3 separate regions of the Homo sapiens genome follow, and all the other regions are reported to be linked to region 3. The links are microRNA targets in miRTarBase. Many come from high-throughput screens and were not tested one by one. Region 3 holds a microRNA gene; each other region holds the end of a gene's coding sequence.
What was found. Region 3 holds the annotated microRNA hsa-miR-6512-3p (UUCCAGCCCUUCUAAUGGUAGG, at 5,125-5,146, shown strand). A microRNA usually pairs through its seed, bases 2 to 8, with sites in the 3' UTR of a target mRNA and lowers its output. Matches are read on the target gene's strand: a 7mer-m8 pairs with bases 2 to 8, a 7mer-A1 pairs with bases 2 to 7 and ends in A, and an 8mer does both.

Region 1 (7,196 bases), not on the chromosome of region 3:
ACCAGGGCTACCATTAAGAATCCCAAAATCCACGTCGGGCATGGTGGCTCACGCCTGTAATCCCAGTACTTTGTGAGGCCAAGGCAGGCAGATTGCAAGGTCAGGAGATTGAGACCATCCTGGCTAACACGGTGAAACCCTGTCTCTACTAAAAATACAAAATTAGCCAGGCGTGGTGACATGCACCTGTAATCCCAGCTACTTGGGAGGCTGAGGCAGGAGAATCGTTTGAACCCGGGAGGCGGAGGTTGCAGTAAGCTGAGATCACACTACTGCACTCCAGCCTGAGTGACAGAGTGAGACTCCATCTCAAAAAAAAAAAAAGAATCCCAAAATCATATAATATTCCAAAACAAGGTAATATATATATTAATTTGAACCTAAATGCAAAAATTCCAAAGAGATTGATGGTATGGATTATCTGTTCCCTGCACTTTGCCAAGCTGGGGCTGACTATGCAAATGTTTTGTTGCTTCATGGAAGGATAGTACCCTTTCTTCATATTTATCCAGTGTGATCCCCTATTATTGGGAATGACCCCAAAGGGAAACCCTGGAATATCTCATCTTGCTACCAAAAATATGGGCTAGTCCAGTGACAACCAGTGGGACCTACTTTAGAGGGAAAGGTTTGGATTTAAATTAATGATAAAAGGAAGAAAGGTGAAATTGTTGCTGAGGGAAGGGTAGTTACAAAAGGGAAAATCTAATATAATTTTGGTGCCTTGAGAGAATCTCAGAGCAAAAGAATAATATTCTCTTTTAACTTTCACTCAGTGCCCCTTGCAGTAAAGGATTCAGTTTTCCAAAACCTCTTTCTGAAGAATCAAGAAGTAAGCAGTACAGAAGCCAACTCAATGAATGAAACATACACTTCTGAGAGTGGTCTTCATCCTCAAAATGGATGAGCAGATAGCAACTCTGACTACAACTATCTGGAACAATACAGATATGACTATGTCCTTTGGTTTCCATTTCATAGGATAGAGCTATGGTTGAAAACCTGAATTGGGAAGCAAACTACGGAATACATATCCAGTTGAATCTGGAAAACACTGATTACCATTAGTCTAAATGAACATTGTGTAACCATTGATTGTGATAATGAAAGTTTAAAGAAGGTACTGGGATATGATGGAAGACGTTCATCTTCAGCATGTCCCATCTGTCAAAACATTATGTACAAAAATAGCTCTTGTTCCTGTTATTGGGGATGGAAAGCCATAAAGAGATGGAGGAACAATTGAGATACTTGGATCACTGAGAAAGGAAAATGATGAAATCTAATTTGCAGGCTCAAGTACTGAGAATGAAAAATCAGGAATTCTATGTGGATGGGTATGGGAAGCATTATGGTATACCCAAATCAAAGTCCATTTAGAGGCCAGGCACAGTGGCTCTCGCCTGTAATCCCAGCACTTTGGGAGGCCGAGGAGGGTGGATCACTTTAGGTCAGGGGTTCAAGGCCAGCCTGGCCAACATAGTGAAAGCCAATCTCTACCAAAAATACAAAAATTAGCCAGGCCTGGTGGCACGTGCCTGTAGTCTCAACTACTCATGTGGCTGAGACATGAGAATCACTTGAAGCCAGGAGGTGGAGGTTGCAGTGAGCCAAGATCATTTGAGCTCAGGAGACAGAGACCAGCCTGGGCAACATGGTGAAACCCCATCCCTACAAAACATATAAAAATTAGCCTGGTGTGGTAGCATGCACCTGTAGTCTCAGCTACTCGGGATGTTGAGGTGGGAGGATCGCTTGAGCCAGGGAAGTCAAGACTGCAGTGAGCCATGATCAGGCCACTGCACTCCAGCCTGGGCAACAGAGCAAGACCCTGTCTCAAAAAAAAAAGTTCAATTTACAAAAACTAGTCACTTCCATAACTGGACATCCATAAGCAAAAAACAAAACAAAAAAAACTTTGACTTTAATCTCACACCTTATGTAAAAACTAAAAATGGAAAATAGATCTACAAGAAAAACACAAAATGATGTAACTTTAAAAACAGAAGAAAATCTAGACCTGGGGTTAGGCAAAGTCCTTAGATGTTGCATCAAAAAGAATGATCCAAAAAAGAGGAAAAAAAAAGATAATTAGATCTCATCAAAATTAACAACTTTACTCTGCAAAATACACTGCTAAGAGAATGAAAAGACAAGCCACAGACTGGGAGAAAATATTTGGAAATCATTTATCTGATAAAAGAATCGTAATCAAACTATTTCCTGGTTTTGCAATTTTACTATAGTTATACTACTGTCAGTGGAGGCTCAGTGATGGGTACACAGGACCTACTATTTTTGTAACTTCTTGTGAGGCTACAATTATTTCAAGGCAAGAAGGTTGTTTTTTTTTTTTTTGAGATGGAGTTTCACTCTTGTCGCCAGGCTGGAGTGCAAAGGCACGATGTGGGCTCACTGCAATCTCTGCCTCCCGGGTTCAAGTGATATTCCTGCCTCAGCCCCCCTGAGTAGCTGGGATTACAGGTGCCCGCCACCACACCCAGCTAATTTTTTTTGTATTTTTAGTAGAGACAGGTTTGACCATGTTGGTCAGGCTGGTCTCAACCTCCTGACCTCAAGTGATCCGCCTGCCTCAGCCACCCAAAATGCTGGGATTACAGACGTGAGACACTGTGCCTGGCCAAAAAGTTTACTTTTTTAAAAAGGATCTTGGGAGTTATCAAGCAAACTGCCTATTTTTTCCCATCTTTGGCTGGTATTAAATATTCCAACACAATATTAATGGAGCAATCACTGATAACACTTTCCTGGATGACAATCTGACTCAACTAATCAAAAGCTATTAGAATGTACAAACCTTGACCAAGAAATTCGATATCTAGGAGCTTTTCCTAAAGAAATAATCAAAGATACATACAAAAATCTGCAAATGATGTAGGTTTTCACAGTTGTTTATAACAGTGAAAAGTTGAAAAAAACTTAAAAATTGGAAATAAGTGGAGGACTAGTTAGTATAATACTGAGAAGACAGAATACAATGCAGTCATAAGACATTTAAGCCATAGAAGAATATTTATTGACATGGAAAATGTTAACAATATACTTCTATATGAAATATGTAGGCTACAAAACAGTATATACAGTTTAATACCATTTTTATGGAAAGAAAAATAACCATATATACAAAATCATGCATAAGAAAAAAATAATATAAGGATGTACATACCAAATATTAATAATAATGGCTATCTCTGGATAGTGGAATCAGAGGGATTATGTAATTTTCCCGATAAATTTTCCTGTCCTCCAAACAGCATCCGCTTCATACTATTATTTCTTGGTTGTAATTAGTTTGATATAATTCTCTTCAGAAAGGCTCTGTTTCACTATATATACCTCAAAGCATACTTTTGATGCAGCTTCTGCAATTCCCATCTAAAAAGTAGATAACACTTGCTCTTATATTCTGGCATATGAAGACTATTTGTAATTAACACACTATAAAATATGTCAAAGCAGGCCAGGCATGGTGGCTCACACCTGTAATTCCAAAACCTTGGCAGGAAGATCGATTGAGGCCAGGAGCTCAAGACGAGCCTGGGCAACATAGAAAGACCCTATCTTTACAAAAAAAACTTTAAAAATTAGCCAGGTGTAATAGCACATGCCTGTCTGTAATCCCAGCTACTTGGCAGGCTGGAAGGTCAAGGCTGCAGTGAGCCATGATCATGCCACTGCACTCCAGCCTAGGTGACAGAGCAAGAACTCATCTCTAAAAAAAAATTTTTAAATAAAGCAAAATATGCCACAGCATAGATCTGATTGTAGAAAATTATTATATGGAGAACTGAAAAATCTCCTAATCAAGACAAAAATTTTAAATAGAGGAAAAAAATACTATCTATCATTAGTTCAAGTTTCCATTAAGAGTAGAGTGTGAAGTAGCTCCAAGTTCAGAGCTGGAGAATTTTGCATCTCTCCCTCTTACCAGCCAATTGACTTTAGGTAAAGAATACTAGAGTTTTTTAGTTAGTAAAATATAGTTAATAATTCTGTATAAAGGAGCAAAAGTAAGTTTCTCATTGTTTCCTATCTCCCTTCATAGGTTTGACATGTTGAAATTGTGAAATTATTTAATGTTAATAGTTTTTAACTTCTTTAATTATGTAAAATAATTAATTTTTAAATTATTTTAACAGTTAAAACACAAAGCATACTTTTCATGGAACCAAGTGTTCCAAACACAAAAAGGTCATTCTCTGATGGCTCCTGATAACATACAACATAAAATATAGTTATAACAAATATAATTTAGAATTTATATTTCAGAATCCATCCTGGTGTAAAGCTATTTACTATAACCTTACTAAAAATACCAACGGTAAGGATGTTGGATCTTTTAAAGGTAAAACATCAGAGAAAAGAGAAAAAGACCTGTTTGTCCAATTCTCTGTGCTTTCCATGCTCTAGCACCATCCCAAAGTTGCCTCCTAACTTCTGTTCCCTCCCTGGGAAGGGAAGTCCAGGCAAATCTGTGATCAGTTAATAACTTTTAACAATTGTTTGCCATTACATCTGAAAGTGAACAGTTAATCACTTATTGTTATATCTCAAAGGTAAATTTCACTATCTAAATGCCTAGAGGTAACTGGAAGATGAAAGATACATAAAGGTTTGATGAATAGAGGGGAAAAAATGGGGGGGAGGGTTGTTTCTGTTTTTCCAATGAAAAGGTTTGCTCCTTCTCTCTGCAAAATCTTGGAACTGAGAAAGCCGTCTGGAGTGCAGATGGAAAGCATGCATCAAATTGATGTAACTACACAACATACTCCTGCCCTACACCAGGTTCATTCTGCCACCTCTATCCCACTCTACGAATGTCCCATTTGCCACAGCCTAACTTCTATCATAGTTCTAATTCCTCAGTGAAGATCACAAGAAAGGTACTTCCAGGTTGTTAAAAGAAACGAGAATGTTACACCAACACATTTCTGGGGTGGAAGGAGACTACTGACACTCCATATTTATTGCTTACATTACAAGAATTAAACAAAAAAAGCAGACTAGAAAATCACTTTCTGTAATTTCACAATCACCAATTTGCAACAGAAACTGAAGCATAATATTTATGCTAACAAATATGTTGGATGAATTATCACCTCAGCACATAACTGCAGATGGATACTCCTGGATTTTCACTTAATCCATTACTCAATGATGAACACTATAAAATGAAAGGTGACATACTTATGAACTAAAATCACAAGAAGAAACTCTCCAAGATCAATCTTAAATGAGCTCCTATTCCAATAAGCCATAAAGAGCAGTAAAAGGCAATATTCATTTAACAGTACAAGAATCTCGATGACAAGAAATCAGGTATTTATATTCCTCTAGAGACATTTCTTCTCCACCTAACAAAGGCACTTGACATGTACTGAAATGGACAGTTAATTCAGGTACTGCCCTGGGCAACTGTTACCTTGCTAAAATTAGATGAAGTGGTGATTAAGTTCAAATTAGTTCTCCCAAATAAGCCTGAAACACACATGAATAGATCATAAGTTCTCTATTTTTGGCAGATGATATAACCAAGAAGAAAAGCTAATGTTGGTATCCATGCTGAACTGGCTGACTTAAGCAGTCAAGGATACTCTCTCTGCACAATATATTCCTTGATGACTATGGAATGTATATATAATTATAGGCAAATTAACCTTTCCTATAGTTTCAGGTATTAATGTTCATTCCTCTTCTTGTCTTTTCTTACTTTTTTGTTCTTTCCCAAAGCCTTAGATGACTCCTCCTGAAAAAGACACAAATCAGTGCAGCATCTCTCCATTTACATAAAGATGAAATCTTCAATCTAATCACTTAGAATATATTTACACATATATATTCCACATATATTCATACATATATGTATGTATGTATATATGTTACAGTGAGGGTATAATCACTTTTATATGTGTCATTTCTGTGTTTTAAAGGGTACTTTCACTTATAGGCTAATATTTTTTAAACAATCAAGAATAATCAAGGAAACCTTATTTATCTAGTGGATTTATGTTTGAATAATTTCAAAATTATTTCATCTATTGCCCCACTTTCCCAAGGCAGTAAAATTTAAATAAGGCAGATATGAACATACCTAAAATATAAAACAAAATAAACTCAAAGTATAAAGGAAGAAAGCATCTAAAGGTATGCCAGTGAAGGGGGAGATGTTTTGACACTAACAGAGAATTTCAGAATTTTCTAGATGTTTAAAGAACATCTAGTCTGATGTGATATCAGCTACAACCACTCTGGGGCTCAATTTTAGGGATGGAACCTAGTTGGTCTTAAAAGGTTTTTCTAATTATAAAATTCTATGAACCTATGAAATCAAGGTGCGAAGGGATGAAGTGGTCTGTCCTATGAAATCAAGGTGCGAAGGGATTAAGTGATCGGTCCAAAGTCACGTGACTGGCCAGACACACTGTTTAGAGTCTAGGTCTCCAGGTTCTGAGTCCAAAGGTTTTACCAATTCACCACTCACATTCTGATTCATTCTTAATTTTCTGTCTTTTTAAAAAATTCCCAGGCAGTGATGAGAAATTCTCTAGATGTAGTACGAAGAGCCACTTACAGGTGAATTTGTGTAGTTCTTTTCCACTAGTATGTTTCTGGCACAGTTGTTGATATGTTTAAAGCGATCTGGTCCTAGCAGAATCCCTCCATACCAGCGTGATACTACCACCATGACATTCTTCACATTCAAAATCTGTTATTTTTTGGAAGCATAATTAGATACATAGACAGACATGTATAAATATGAGTTTTAAAAAAGGAGAATGAAATAACCCATGTATAAAATTGCACATAAAATTTCCCAGTGACTTTAATGGTAGAGCCATATGAGTGAGTAGGCACTGAGTGAGATTACTAACAATTCAGGGAGTGAAATGGAAGAACAGAAGGGAATCTGGAAAACCATCACTGTGTTTCACAATGTCCTCAAACTCCCAGATTTGGGGCAACTGGACAGAGTGAAGGGGAGACCATGCAAGTAGGATTCTAGCACCTGGTGACTTCAACCAGAACAGCTAAGTTTAGGCAGCATTTTACCACTAGGCCAAATAACAACAAAAAAAACCCTGCTTCTGAACAAAGCTACAGGGGCTGCACGAGGCATCAATATCCCTGGTGCTATTAGTAAGGTTTCATCAGTTGAGATCTAGATCAGTCTCACT
Region 2 (7,206 bases), not on the chromosome of region 3:
GATCCCAGTATCTTTTGAATTATAACTTCAATTCTTATAAACAGCAGATTCAAGAATAAAGTATGTTTAATCAAGGCACAAATGGTATTCTCGCCTACAGGACACTGATATTTCACACAGTAGTGCTGAGTTACTATTTTGATTTAACAGTGTATGACTGTACATTTGATCAATGTGAATCTGCCCCTGAGGGGTTTTTCTACTCTCAGGGGTCTCAACAAATCTGGATTTTGAGTCTGCAGGGTCCCGTGCCTGACTTTCTCAAAGTCATCATTTGTCTCTTGTTTCACTTCCCATTAGAAGAATCCACTACCAAAAGTACTGTACTAGTCTAGGTTCCCCAAGCCTGCCATAAACAAACAACACCAACACTCACCTGCTGCCACTCTATGGGGAGTACTATCTCTGAGAAACAGAAGTGAGGAAAAACATGGAAGTGAGGCAGTAGGAGAAGGGAACACAAACACAGGTGTTAGTGAGCTTGTCATAGCTTTGCAACAAGTGCAGTTAATTGCTCGGTCTTTGAGGATATTTTCATGAAGGTCTTATGAATTATTGCACTTTAGAACAGCCTATCTGGGGGAAAGGAAGGGAGAATTTATCTACTAGCTTCATTTTGTGCTGTACCTCCTTGATCAAAGTTCACTCCTTAAGTAGGGTTGCCAGATTTAGAAAAATTTTAAAAAGCCCATGCTTATAATAAAAAGTAATTTATTGTTTGTCTGCAATTCAAATTTAACTGAGAGTCCTGTATTTTACCTGACAATCCTCCTCTCAGGATATTAGCACCTAAGCATTTCCAGGCAGCAGCTGGGGAAGCCAGAACCTCCACAGACAGATCTGGTGCACAGGCACAAAGGTCAGTTACTCCTTGTCAGTGGCACAGTGTACAGGACTCCTCAACATATAGCAGTGTGGTGGTGGTGGTAGTGGCAGCAGCAGCAGAAACTCTTTAGGACAACAGGGTAGCGCTAGGCCACTGGCCAGGAGGCAAGGCATGAGGAAGAGGCAAGAGGATGTAGGCATGGCTGCATGGATGCGGGATGATAAAAAACATAATTTTCTGTAAAAATGGGTAATTATTTATTATAATATCTCTTTAGTATCCATCATAGATCACATTATACTAGATACTGGGGATTTAGTAGTAAATAAGACAAAATTTCTGCTACGGGGAGTTTACAGAATAGCTTGAATATTGTGTGTGTTCTGATTTAAAGATGCTTAATGAATGCTAGTAAAATGAAATAATGTAATAAAATAAATGTAAATGGAGGTTTTTCTAAATGACTATTTTAGTAAAAACAAACAAAACCCCTCCATAACTATCACATGTATTGCTTTCTGGATGCTTCTGAAAAGAAATAACTCAGAAAAGTATTAGAAGGCCTCCATCAAATACTAGAATTATTATTTAATGAGAAAAAAATCCACGTGTATACAACATTTCAAAACAGAAGTTAAATCATTAAATAGTACTTTTTATTTAAATGTTTATAAGGCAGATCTATGAGAATGATAGAAAACATGGTGTGTAATTTGATAGCAATATTTTGGAGATTACAGAGTTTTAGTAATTACCAATTACACAGTTAAAAAGAAGATAATATATTCCAAGCAGATACAAAATATCTAATGAAAGATCAAGGCAGGAAAATGAGTATAACTAATTGACAATGGAAAATCAATTTTAATGTGAATTGCACATTATCCTTTAAAAGCTTTCAAAAGAAAGAATTATTGCAGTCTAGTTAATTCAGACAGTGTTAAATGGTATCAGGATAAAGAACTGAAGGGCAGAAAGAATTAATTTTCACTTCATGTAACACACCCAGATTTACAATGGCTTAAATGCAGGAAAAAGCAGTGGAAGTAGGGAAGTAGTCAAGGTCTTTCTGGTCTCTAATCTGCCTTACTCTTTGGGTGTGGCTTTGATCCTCTGGAGACAGCTGCCAGGGCTCCTGTTATATCCACAATCCCAGCAGCAAGATGAAGGGATGAAAAAGGACACATGCTGCCTTCCTTTGAGGAGACTTCATCTCACTGGCCAACACTCAGTCACATGTACACCTAACTGCAAGGACAGCTGAGGAATGTAATGGGCAGCCGCTTTTAAAGAAGTAGAGTCAATAGGAAGACAAATTCCAGTTCCAGCTCAGTCTGGGTATCTGCAAAGCTGCAAAAGATCTTTAAAGACAATTTCAAGAGAATATTTCCTTAAAGTTGGCAATTTGGAGATCATACAAAAGCATCTGCTTTTGTGATTTAATTTAGCTCATCTGGCCACTGGAAGAATCCAAACAGTCTGCCTTAATTTTGGATGAATGCATGATGGAAATTCAATAATTTAGAAAGTTAAAAAAAACTCAGTATGTTAGGCTGAACAAAACATTTTTTAGTAACATATGGAAAGAATCTCTGAAAATTAAGCACTGTATAATTTTCTCATACTAAAAAAAAAGTGAAGAACCCATTCATTCATGTAAAATTCACTGTTTAAAGGTAAAAACAGATTGAGTTTCCACTGAAATTATTACAGTTTCATTTAGGGCTAATCATTTGTCCTGAATGTACATCAGAATTTGTTTTACCCACTGATGAACAATTGAAGGTAGGGTGTCTCATTTCACAATATAAATCTTAACACTGTGAGGTGTGTTATACTATGTATGTATCTTGTTTTAAGTCATGGATTTACAAAATAATTTCAACACATTTTAGGCTGTTTACGTATTTCAAAACAGGGATTTCATAGACTGACACAGGAATAATTAGTTCAGTGTTCACAGTATTCCTAAATAAATATTTACTTATTACATTTATGATACTTTATTTAAAATACCACATTAGAAACTTTAAATATTTCATAAATAAATCTCTTTTTTGGGGGGAAACTGTACAGAATTTATTATGAAATAGCTTAATGGCAAGTGGTAATTTAGAAGAATTAAGTTATCAGATAGGAGATATATTAAAATATTTAAAAATTGGATATATTCTTGAAGCCCTTTTACACAAGTAATTTCTATAATTTGATTGTAATGAAAGTATAATATACCTTGTTACTATTATCAGATTAATTTTTGAAAGTAGAATTCCTTAATCAAGCCAAGGTTATGCTGCTTTATAAGAAATTAATCAGGTAGTTTAACACTAGAGCTCATTAGCCAACCTGTATGTAGCACAAAATAATCATCTCTGATAAATACCTATAAATATATTTTATTCATACTTTTAAATATTTTACAATTCAAATAAAAACCTTATATGTAGACAATCTGGGCTAAATTTCCATGTATGTTTTGAAAAATAATGTTAGCATGAATAGATTCATATTTAAATATGATTTTAAATACTCTTAATAGAGGAGACATAAGAAATATTTACATAAAAGCTAAGTAGCATGATACAGCTCATGGTTATTTTCCTCATAGGAAAACAATTACTTGATTTTTTTTTTTGCATAGGATTAAGACTGAGTATCTTTTCTACATTCTTTTAACTTTCTAAGGGGCACTTCTCAAAACACAGACCAGGTAGCAAATCTCCACTGCTCTAAGGTTCTCACCACCACTTTCTCACACCTAGCAATAGTAGAATTCAGTCCTACTTCTGAGGCCAGAAGAATGGTTCAGAAAAATAATGATTATAAAAAATAACAATTAAGAAAAATAATCACATAGAGGTAAAATAAAGCAACTAAACATCATAGTTTTGCATTTTTAGAAAAGCATTTAAACATTTAGAATTATAGTAAATATATTACATTTATTCTAAAACTTCAAAATTATTCTGTTTTTGTAGTACTGAAAAGAAGATAGTGCCATTTGAAACAACAGATGCATCTTTTATACATTTTCACAAGTTTGTTTTTCATATTTTTAAAGGCCCCATTTATCTGTAACAGTGGTATTTTTATTTAGAGTATCGGCTACTTAATATATACATGCAACAATATATGCTTTAATAGTCATTTAACTTTTAGGAATATTTCATCACATTAAGTGGTTAAGCATAGTGTTAAAAGAGTGGAATTTAAGGAATAAGAAAATATTGAAAATACGCTGTTATTTTCATTAGTTCACTATAATAGAATGTTTTTGCCCATAAAAGTTATCATTGCCCAACTGAATTCCTACCAAGAACTAACAAGTGATTCTCAAGTGGGGAGAAATATTATTAAAATAAAGAAAATAGAGGGCTCAGTTAGAAAGTACAAGATAATAGGCCGGGCGCGGTAGCTCACACCTGTAATCCCAGCACTTTGGAGGCCAAGGCGGGCGGATCACGAGGTCAGGAGATCGAGACCATCCTGGCTAACACGGTGAAACTCCGTCTCTACTAAAAATACAAAAAGAAATCAGCCGGGCATGGTGGCGGGCACCTGTAGTCCCAGCTACTCGGGAGGCTGAGGCAGGAGAATGGCGTGAACCCGGGAGGCAGAGCTTGCAGTGAGCCGAGATCGTGCCACTGCACTCCAGCCTGGGTGACAGAGCAAGACTCTGTCTTTAAAAAAAAAAAAAAAAAAAAAGAGGGTACAAGATAATAAAATTCACCAAGAGAACATTAGAAAATCATAAGTGAATTACCAAACTGACAAGGCAGTTGTAGAAAAAGAGTCACTGGTGGGAAAGGTAGCCTCTACTAAATAAAAGTCTTTTTATTGTTGGCAGTTGGATTCAGTAGTACCTACGTGGGTAAGTTTAGAAATGTTATAATTTCAGGAAGAGGAACGCATATAATTGTATCTTGCCTATAATTTTCTATTTTAATAAGGAAATAGCAAATTGGGGTGGGGGGAATGTAGGGCATTCTACAGTTTGAGCAAAATGCAATTAAATGTGGAAGGACAGCACTGAAAAATTTTATGAATAATCTGTATGATTATATGTCTCTAGAGTAGATTTATAATTAGCCACTTACCCTAATATCCTTCATGCTTGTAAAGTACTCCCTAATGAATGGTTATGCAGGCAGGAGAACTTCTCAGGAAGAGAAAAGGAGAAGACTAACTCTACAGAGATTTTTGAAAGACTCCGTGGGATCTCAGCAATTTGTTAACACTGCTAGGGCCCTTCACTGCATAGGGAGGCATATGGACTGCCATGGGTCTCCAGGCTCATGTTCCAAGCAAGAATAGGGTAAGTAACTGTGAATTACCCTACAAGCAGTAATAAGTTTATTATAATAATATTTTTATACATTTTTGGATGCACCCAACCCACTCTAAAGAATGTCAGTGACTTTATACAAAAGAGGAAGCATCTAGATTGGCATTGTGAACATAATGCATAGGGGCGCGGCGGGAGCTCTAGAGCCTAGTGGTTAAAACCGTGGCCTCTGGAATATGACTACCTGGACTTGAATGCTCACTCTGCCATTTATTAACTGCAAGACCTTTGAAAAATAACTTTTCTATCCTTCGGTCCCTCATGTGTAAAATGAGGATAATAACTACTTATCTCACGGGGTTGTTCTAAGTATTAAATGGGATAATACAAGTAAAGTACTTAGAACCATGCCTAGCACATCAGAATCCCTCAAAGAACATCAGTATAATCCTATACCATAGCAAGTGGTGACTGGTTAAGGTGCGACAAAGGTCAGCTGGCAGATTACTTGTGTGCAAACTTGATACTTTTGTTCTAAGTAGGAACTAGTATACAGTTCCTAGGATTGGTACCGTATTAGAGATAGCAGTTTTGGAAGCCAAATGTTACTGAATCCTCTTCCTGATCAGTATATTAATATGAAAATGAAACTGCTCTGTAACACAATAAAGAATAAAATCTTTCATGAGGTATGTATTATCAGTATGTATTTCATGTCTCAAATATATTTTAAATATAATTTCAGGTTTAATTTGTCTTTTTAATTTGTGTCTCTTCATATAATCACATTGCTTCATACAATTAATTTCATCCTTCAAATCCTATTTTATGAGAGAAATATAGGAATGCTATCATGCAGCCTTACCTAGATGCTAACATAACGTGTCCTTTCTTAAAAAAATGTATAATAATGCATTTCTACTTTTTAAGTTGAATAATTAAAATCTTAATCTTCAGAAAAAAATGTATATCCATTGAATTATTTTAAAAGCTTAAAATTCTGCTGGTTTGCAAATTGTTTTTAACATTATATCTATATTATTAACTGTAAGTATTTTTGCCTGATTATGAAATATAAAGTAACAACAGGGTTACAGTTGTGCAAAACAAAACAAAACATACCTAAATTACAATAATATGTTGACTAGAAAAATTCATATTGGCAAACATGACATTTGTGAAAATTAACTTGAAGAAAACTCTATCACTAAGTCAGTTGAAATCTCATTTAACAAGTTTCAACCCACGATAATTTGACAGCATACTTGTAACTGAACGTAGAAGTCATAAAAATAATGGCATGAGTAGAACTTTATATGGCAGCTGTGAACACCATTTGTCATCACATTACTGTGACCCTCTCCGGGGAGACATGAGGAATTGTTCCTCCCATACCTTCTTCCAGAAATTGGCTCTTTTCCCAGCCTTTTTTAATTCGTTTTAGCTTTCGGCTTATACATGGAAGGAATAAAATAATCTTACCCAGAATTACAATTGAGGGCAAAACAAGAGCAAGAACAAAGTTTGGTGGTGTATAAAATCTGTAGTACTCTTCCTCAAAAGCTCGTTTCCATCCATAAATTAAAACATGGAAAGTACTTATGAGCAGAGCGACATATCCAAGTGTAGACTTGGGCCAGGAGAGGAAGGAAAAGAAACAAAGAATAAGAAACAAATGACTGAAACTCATAAATTAAACTATCAAGATACACCATGTTTATATTTTGATAAAACTATTTTGTCTTAAATTATCAAGTTAACCTTTGTCCTCTACTGAATTAAATAATATTAATATTTTTATATATGCATATATATGTATTATTTATATGCACACCTTATGTTACACAAATAAGGCCCTACTGCATACAGTTTAATATTCTTACTACTTCATTTATTTTATCAAGAACATTTTCCTCATGTCATTAAATATGAAAATGACATTAATACTGTATAATATTCTATTGAATGGATGTGCATAATTTATTAAACCATTCCTTTTTGTTGATAATTCACTGTTTCCAACTTTCCTCAACTATAAATGTCATGTTAGGCCATTTTCCATATTTTGATTTATTTTCTTAGGACTGGTTTCTAA
Region 3 (7,203 bases):
GATAGGTGATTTGCAACTATTTCCTCCCATTCTGTAGGTTTCTTGCTGGTGTCCTTTTAGGAATAGAAGTTTTACGTTTTGATGAAGTCAAGTGTGTATGTTTTCTTTTGTTGCTTGTGTGTTTGATCTCATATCAAAAAACCATTGCACAATCCAAGGCCACAAAGAGTTATGTCTATGTTTTCTAGATTTTTATCATTTTAGTGCTTACATTTAGGTCTTTGATCTTTTTGTGTTAATTTTTTATATTGGGTGTGAGGTAAAAATCCAACTTCATTCTTTTGCATGTGATATCCAATTATCCAGAACCACTTGTTGAGAAGGCTAGTTCTTCCTCACTGGATTATCTTGGCACCCTTGTCAAAAATAAGTTGACTGTAGATGTGAAGGTGTATGAGTTGCTAAAATACCTCTTCTGTGATATTTATAATTTATTTTCTAAAAGGATAAGTTATAGGTCACATCTCAGATTACAATGATTCAAGTCAAAAAGTTCAAAGTAGAATTTACTTTCAAAATTGTTTGTTCCCCCAGAGCTAGTTAATGCCCCCAGAGCTAGTTAATAAACTCTATTTGCAGATAAAAGCATGCTTTCCCTTCAAAGGTATTTCACCAAGACGGGAAACACAAAACTAAATAAGCTGGGAAACTGAGGATACACAGAGGGTCTCCTTAATCTCTGGATATGTGGTCTAATGTATCCTTTTTGTGCTCATTTTTTCCCTTTTATCCAGAAATACAACATTACCTTTTTATAAAATTCCTGGAGATTGATCATATCTCTAGTGTTTGGGTCTAGAATGTATTTTTTGGCCAAAACATCTCTTTACCCCACTTCCACATGTGGAAAGAAAGAAAACATGGTACTCTAATCTCACAAGTGAGGCATGGGGTTGTTTCCTGAAATGAGGCAAGGACTTTGGACAAGAACATGTTTGGACTTGAGATGGTTTTTGTAAACCCAAATGATATTAGTTCTAGTCTGTCTTTATCGCTCACTGTATTTTGTTTTCATTCATACTAATGAATAATAGACTTGATTGTGTTCCATCATTTATGTCATTAATATTTCCTTTATGTTTGAGTGCTGTGCAGTTCTCCTTGAAACTTGTATGGAGATTGAACTTGATAGTGATTTAAAGTAATTAATTCATATGTCAGTTGTTAGCAAGGTCTAGTAATTAAAATCTACTTTAGAGTAAGTTATTAACTCTCCAAAATAAAAACACTTTATCAACTTACCAGTTTTAGCTATTTATTCTACTTGACAGATGAGATAGGGTAGTTATTGACTGTACATAATCACCTATGTACTTTCACCACTGAACACTAGGGTCAAATTGAAGTCTAGGTTATTAAAGTTCATAGTTTAAATCTAGAATAAACCAGTTCAGGTTGATGGGAGAAGGAAGAGAGTGTCCTTGGATCTTGTTATCTTTGCAATATTGTCTCCTTAAATTTTGCAAAGTCCATTTTTGCTGTCTTCAAAATTCTCAAACTTCTAAACTAAAAACACCCTAGACCAAGGATTTCATATTGAGATCTAAGATATCAAAGTGCTATATTGTTTATGATTTATTTTATAATGCTTTTTAGTAAAACAAACTTTAGATGCCATGATTTCCTTGTGAACAGGCTGGAGGGAAGAAAACAAGTTACACGTAATGCATGGGACACAAGTGCAGGCCTTTTATTTGCAGGCCTAAACTAGTCACAAGTTTCCATCTTATGAAAGCAAGTTTTCTTTTATTCTGCTTTGTTTTTTGTCTTGATATCTGGTTACATTTATTCAGTTTGAGGGCATCTTATAACGGGCCCTTTACTTCCCTCCATTTGGCTTGTGATGAACTACTACCAAGGTCAATCCAGGTCTGACTCTTTCATGGAGTCAGTGTGGCTGGGGTAGTGTTTCCCAAGCCAAGCTTGTCATCAGAATTACCTGGGGTGGTTTGTAAAGAACTTTTCAGGCCTCATTCCAAACCTACTAAATTTAGATCTCTGGTGTGGAGCCTGTAAATCTGTATGTTTGAAACCTTCCCAAGGTGATTCTGATGTCCAGTCATATTTGGGTCATAGTCCAGAATGCAGTCATGCATTGCTTAATGACAGGGATTTGTTCTGAAAAATGTGTCATTAGGTAATTTCTTCATTGTAGAACCATCATAGAGTGTGATTACACAAACCTAGATGGTATAGCCTACTACACACCTAGGCTATGTGGTATAGCCTATTGCTCCCAGGCTACAAACCTGTACAGTATGTTGCTGTACTGAACACTGTAAGTAATTGTAATACAATGGTAAGTATGTGTGTATCTAAATATATCTTAACATAGAAAAGGTGCAGTAAAAATACAGTATTCAAATCTCATGAAACCACCATCATATAAGAGGTCCGTAGTTGAACTGAAATGTTGTTGTGTTGCCCATGATTGTACTTGGATTTCAGGACTCTGCAGATGCTTGGAGGTCTTATGGGTTTGGCCATGGGGTATTGCCTCTGAGAAACTGCCATCTGCTTGCCAGAGATTCTGAAAAGACCAGAGTTGCCTATTTGCAGTCTGTTCTTCAAGACTATCTACTATGTTGGCAAAAAGGCCTAGGTTTCTTCTCTGTCCATTCTCAATCCCTCAATCTGTCCTTGTGACTTACTTGCTCCTTCAAGCTGCCCAGTAGTGGCGCTGGTGAAAATAAAATAGACTTTGGTCCTACAGACCTGTCATGGACTCTCAGCTCAGCCTCTTCTATGTGTGCCATTTGCCTCATCTGTAAATGTAGTTAATATTGTCCTCTCAAAGATGTTAGGAAAACCAGAAGAATGTATTTATGTAACACCTAGAACAAGTATACCCTGCATTAGGCATTATTTGTTTGGTTTTACCTGTCCATCTCAATGAACATGCTGGGTTAATGAAGTGTGTTCATCAATTTTCCCTGATCGTAGCCTTTTAGATTGCTCTGGGCAGTGTTTCTCAAAGTAGGAGACACAGACCACCTACCTGTGATTGACAGGAGGACAGAAATCTGCTCTAATGCACTCTAACCTTCTGCACTTTTCACTTTTTATTGAAATATACATATAGAAAGGTGTATTTATTGTAAGTGAACAGCTCAGTGGCTTTTCCTAAACTGAACACACCCATGTAACCAGCACCCAGATCAAGAAACAGAACATTACCAGCACCCCCGAAGCCTCCTCTGCAGGCACACTTTAAGAACCACTGGTCTAGGAAGAGCCCAGCTGGGGCACTGTCCTAAACCACCGTCCCGCCTTTACCTAGCAGGCCAAATCTGCATGCAGTGTCAGCTATTCCCAATCTGAGAGGCTGGGCCTATAGCCTCACATACACCCTTCATAGTGATGCAACTTCATTTGTAAAAAGGGTCACAAAGGGTGTTTCTATAATTTATATTCCTAGCATACACCCTAAACTGCTTAAAGCAAATGAATTCAGGTCCCAGCCAAAAAGGAGTGGAGACCAGTCACTGCCTGAAAGCATTGGCTTATTACAACACTCCAGCATTTTCTCACGGCAGGGTGAATGAGGTGGATTCTAGTGTAATTACCTTTATGTAATTGAAAACTAAATCACCGATGGCTGCAGAGTTTAAATATCCATTTAAATACTTTCAATTTATTCAGCTTATTTTTTCAGGACATGCTACTACCAAATAGGCTATTAATTTTTCTAATGGATTAAAATCTGAATAGGTACATTAAAAACTAGCATAGCTCAAATAAATGTCCTCTTTTTCCAAAGATTATTAAAGAGAGTTTTCTTTTTCTTTAACCCAGCTATTCAAATACTCTATTAGACCAGGACCTGTAATAATACAGGCCTTGTCCAGAAGGGATCAGGTTTCTATGTTATATAATTAGGCAAGACTTTAAATAGTAAGACATGCACCTGTGGTGCTTTTGTCTCTAACTCCACAAATTTCAACATGCATACAAATCAAGAAGGGGTGGGGGTGTTACATGCAAATTCTGCTTCAGTGGGTGTTGGAGCCTGAGATTCTGGCTTTCTAACAAGCTCCCAGGTAAGTGCTGATGCTGCTGCTTTGAGGGCCACACACCTTGAGGAGTAGGAAGAGTACTCATACTGGAAGAGTATTCAGCACGGACTGGAATCCTGCATACATATCTGAGCTCTGTGTTCTGGTATGTATATAGACTTTTTAAAAAAATTAGTAGAGATGGGGTCTCACCATTTTGGCCAGGCTGGTCTCAAACTCCAGGGCTCAAGAGATCCTCCTGCCTTGGCCTCCCAAAGTGCTGAGATTACAGGCATGAGCCACTATACCTGGCTTATATAGACTGCTTCTAAGGTCCATTCTAACTGTACAATTCCATGATTCAGTCACTGTTTGGCTATTAACTAATTTTTTTAGGCTTCTGATTCTCATTGTTTATAAGCTGCTATATTAGAGAATGTTCTGTACTGGAAGGCCAGATAAAAAGTCTTACTTATGGCCAGTAAGTTTTATTTTTCAATCTTCTACAAGTCTGCCTCAACCCATGGGAAATCTTGGCTAATAGTAACATGATACTGGGCTTGGACCATAAACTAAACTTGAGTCAGCAATGTAGGGCTTTGGTTAGATAAGCAAGAATGAACTTGGGAATATAACCAAAAGAAAGGGACAGCTAATCCTACCAGAACAGGCAGTATTTATATGAATACTTTTTTCAAATATCCACAACTGGGAAAAGCTGCTGAACACATAAAGAAAAGTTAAAAGCACGGCATTATTTAGCTAGTGAAAAGAGAACAAAGAATGCCTTAAGAATAATTTTTGAATGGCAGCAGAAACCAGCATATCCTGTGAAGTAAATGCATTTTCAGGACCTCAAAATAGATTTAGGTTGCCTCTAAAGCAGAACTTTCCCATGATAATGATGATCCTAGGTGGTAGGATTGCCAATGGTAATTTTCTTTCCCAAAGATTCTTACAACCAACCATAAACCTACTAGATAACCTATCAGTTGTGTTATTAACTGATATATCAGTTGGGGTTCAGTGCAGACACTTCTCTAGGTACTGAATGCTAAGAATTATATGCTTAAAAATTATATGCTCTTACCATTAGAAGAGCTGGAAGAAGGCTGAGGGAGATGCCTTCTTCCAGCCCTTCTAATGGTAGGAGCATTAAGAGGGATGCTGTTGGGCTCGCAGTTCAGTCCACACAGCTACAATCTAGAGGTCAGGAAGCTATAAAGTCCACTGCTGGCATCACAGTCATTTCTCACAGATGAAGTTAGTGGCAATGCAGAGGCACAGAAAGTCTGGTCATTAAAAACCACATTTAATGTTGCACGTACATCAACAACTACCAGTGAAAACTAATAGGCAGCCAGGCATGTTGGTGCATGCCTGAAGTCCCAAACATTTGGGACACTGAGGTGGGAGGATCCTTGAGCCCAGGAGGTCTAGGCTGCAGTGAGTTGTGATTGTGCCACTGTACTCCAGCCTGGACAGAACAAGAATCTTTCTCAAAAAATAAATAAATAGAGAGAGAGAAGGAGGGAGGGAAGGAGGAAGGTAAAAAGAGAGAGAGAGAAAGGAAGGAAGGGAAAGAAGAGGAAGGAAGGAAGGAAGGAGAAGAGAAAGAAAAGGAAGGAAGGAAGGAAGGAGAAAGAGAAAGAAGGAAGGAGAAAGAAGAGAAAGAAAAGGGAGGAAGGAAGGAAGGAAGGAAAACTAATAGGCAGGGGAAATAGCCTCTCTCTTCCTTTTACCTTTCTAATTTCGCATCATTATATCTGACTGGCACAGTTTAAATTGTTTAACAAATCCTATTAGCAGCTCAGCCTAGAATTATAGTTATTGAGCTTTGTTCCTAACTCAGTATAAATCTATCTTTATTGAAGTATAGCATACAGACAGAAAAATGCACAAATTATAATCAGAGAGCTTGATGAATTTTCATAAAGTAAACACACCTACATATTGCTAGCACCCAGATTGGGAGGCAGAAACTACTACCATACCAGAAGCTCCCTTCATTATCTTTTCTAGGCATTATCCTCCCTCAAATTGACTGTAATCTTGGCTTCTAATACCCTAGACCAATTTGGCCTATTTTTAAACATTAGACAAAATGGAATGATACAGTGTGTATTATTTTATTACTGGCTTTTCCTACTCAACTATTTGTGAGATTCATTCATGTTGAGAGTAATAATAGTATCTTCATTTTCATTGCTGTGTAGTATTCCATTGTATGAATATAACACAATTTATACGTTCTACCAAAGATGGACATTTGGGTTGTTTCCAATTTGAGATTACTGCAACTAGTGCCACTGTGAACATTGGTGAACACACACACACACACATATTTCAGTTGGATATATAAAAGTGTAATTTCTCTGATGCATGGGGTTCAGCTTGAGTAGTACTGCCCAACAGTTTTTCACATCTTCATCAAAACTTGATCTTTTCCATCTTTTAAATTTTAGCCATTCTCTTCAAAGACTAATGCAGTGTATTGAATCTCATTGTTGTTTTCATTTTTCTGATATCAAATAAACACCTTTTTAATTGTTTATTGGCCATTTGGGTACCCTCTTCTGTGAAATGCCTATTCATGTGTTTTGTGTGATTTTCTATGGGCTTGTCTGCCTTTTCTTGTTTTTATAGTCCTTTATTCTGGATATGAGTCCTTTGTCGGGTATATGTATTGATAATATCTTTTGCCACTATGTGGCTTTTTGTTTTTTGTTTTTTTTTTTTGAGATGGAGTCTTGCTCTGTCACCCAGGCTGGAGTGCAGTGGCGTGATCTCGGCTCACTGCAAGCTCCTCCTCCCGGGTTCACGCCATTCTCCTGCCTCAGCCTCCCAAGTAGCTGGGACTACAGGTGCCCGCCACCATGCCCAGCTAATTTTTTGTATTTTTAGTAGAGACGGGGTTTCACCATGTGAGCCAGGATGGTCTCAATCTCCTGACCTTGTGATCTGCCTGCTTCGGCCTCCCAAAGTGCTGGGATTACAGGCGTGAGCCACTGTGCCCAGCCCACTCTGTGGCTTATTTTATTCACTCTTTTAATAGTGTATTTTGAAGAAGACATTCATAATTTTGAATTAGTTTAGTTTATCAGATGTTTTCCTTTATGGCTTATTTATTTTGTGTGTCTCCAGTTTAAGAAATCTTTGTGGATTCCAAAATCGTGAGTATTCTTCTGTTTTCTTGTGAAACTGTTAT

Region 1: miRTarBase lists IMPACT as a target of hsa-miR-6512-3p. Seed matches in the 3' UTR shown: 7mer-m8 at 3,702-3,708.
Region 2: the mRNA of STEAP2 is a reported target of hsa-miR-6512-3p. Seed matches in the 3' UTR shown: 7mer-m8 at 4,477-4,483 and 7mer-A1 at 2,149-2,155.

What each region holds. Positions count from the first base shown.
Region 1 is chr18:24,449,350-24,456,545 of GRCh38, reverse strand. It overlaps IMPACT (impact RWD domain protein), which reads right to left. Exons shown (of 11, transcript NM_018439.4): 10 at 6,593-6,727; 11 at 3,015-5,767. The coding sequence ends at 5,699. Among named protein-coding and RNA genes, the nearest start is that of HRH4, 7.7 kb to the left of the region's middle.
Region 2 is chr7:90,231,872-90,239,077 of GRCh38, reverse strand. It overlaps STEAP2 (STEAP2 metalloreductase), which reads right to left. Exons shown (of 6, transcript NM_001244944.2): 6 at 1,395-6,741. The coding sequence ends at 6,454. LOC107986819 (a long non-coding RNA gene) reads left to right here. Exons shown (of 2, transcript XR_007060423.1): 2 at 1-1,491. Among named protein-coding and RNA genes, the nearest start is that of CFAP69, 9.7 kb to the left of the region's middle. RefSeq lists a silencer at 4,313-4,518.
Region 3 is chr2:177,311,754-177,318,956 of GRCh38, reverse strand. MIR6512 (microRNA 6512) reads left to right here and starts at 5,075; the gene lies at 5,075-5,151. All of the region lies in intron 6 of LOC100130691 (Putative uncharacterized protein FLJ44553), which reads left to right.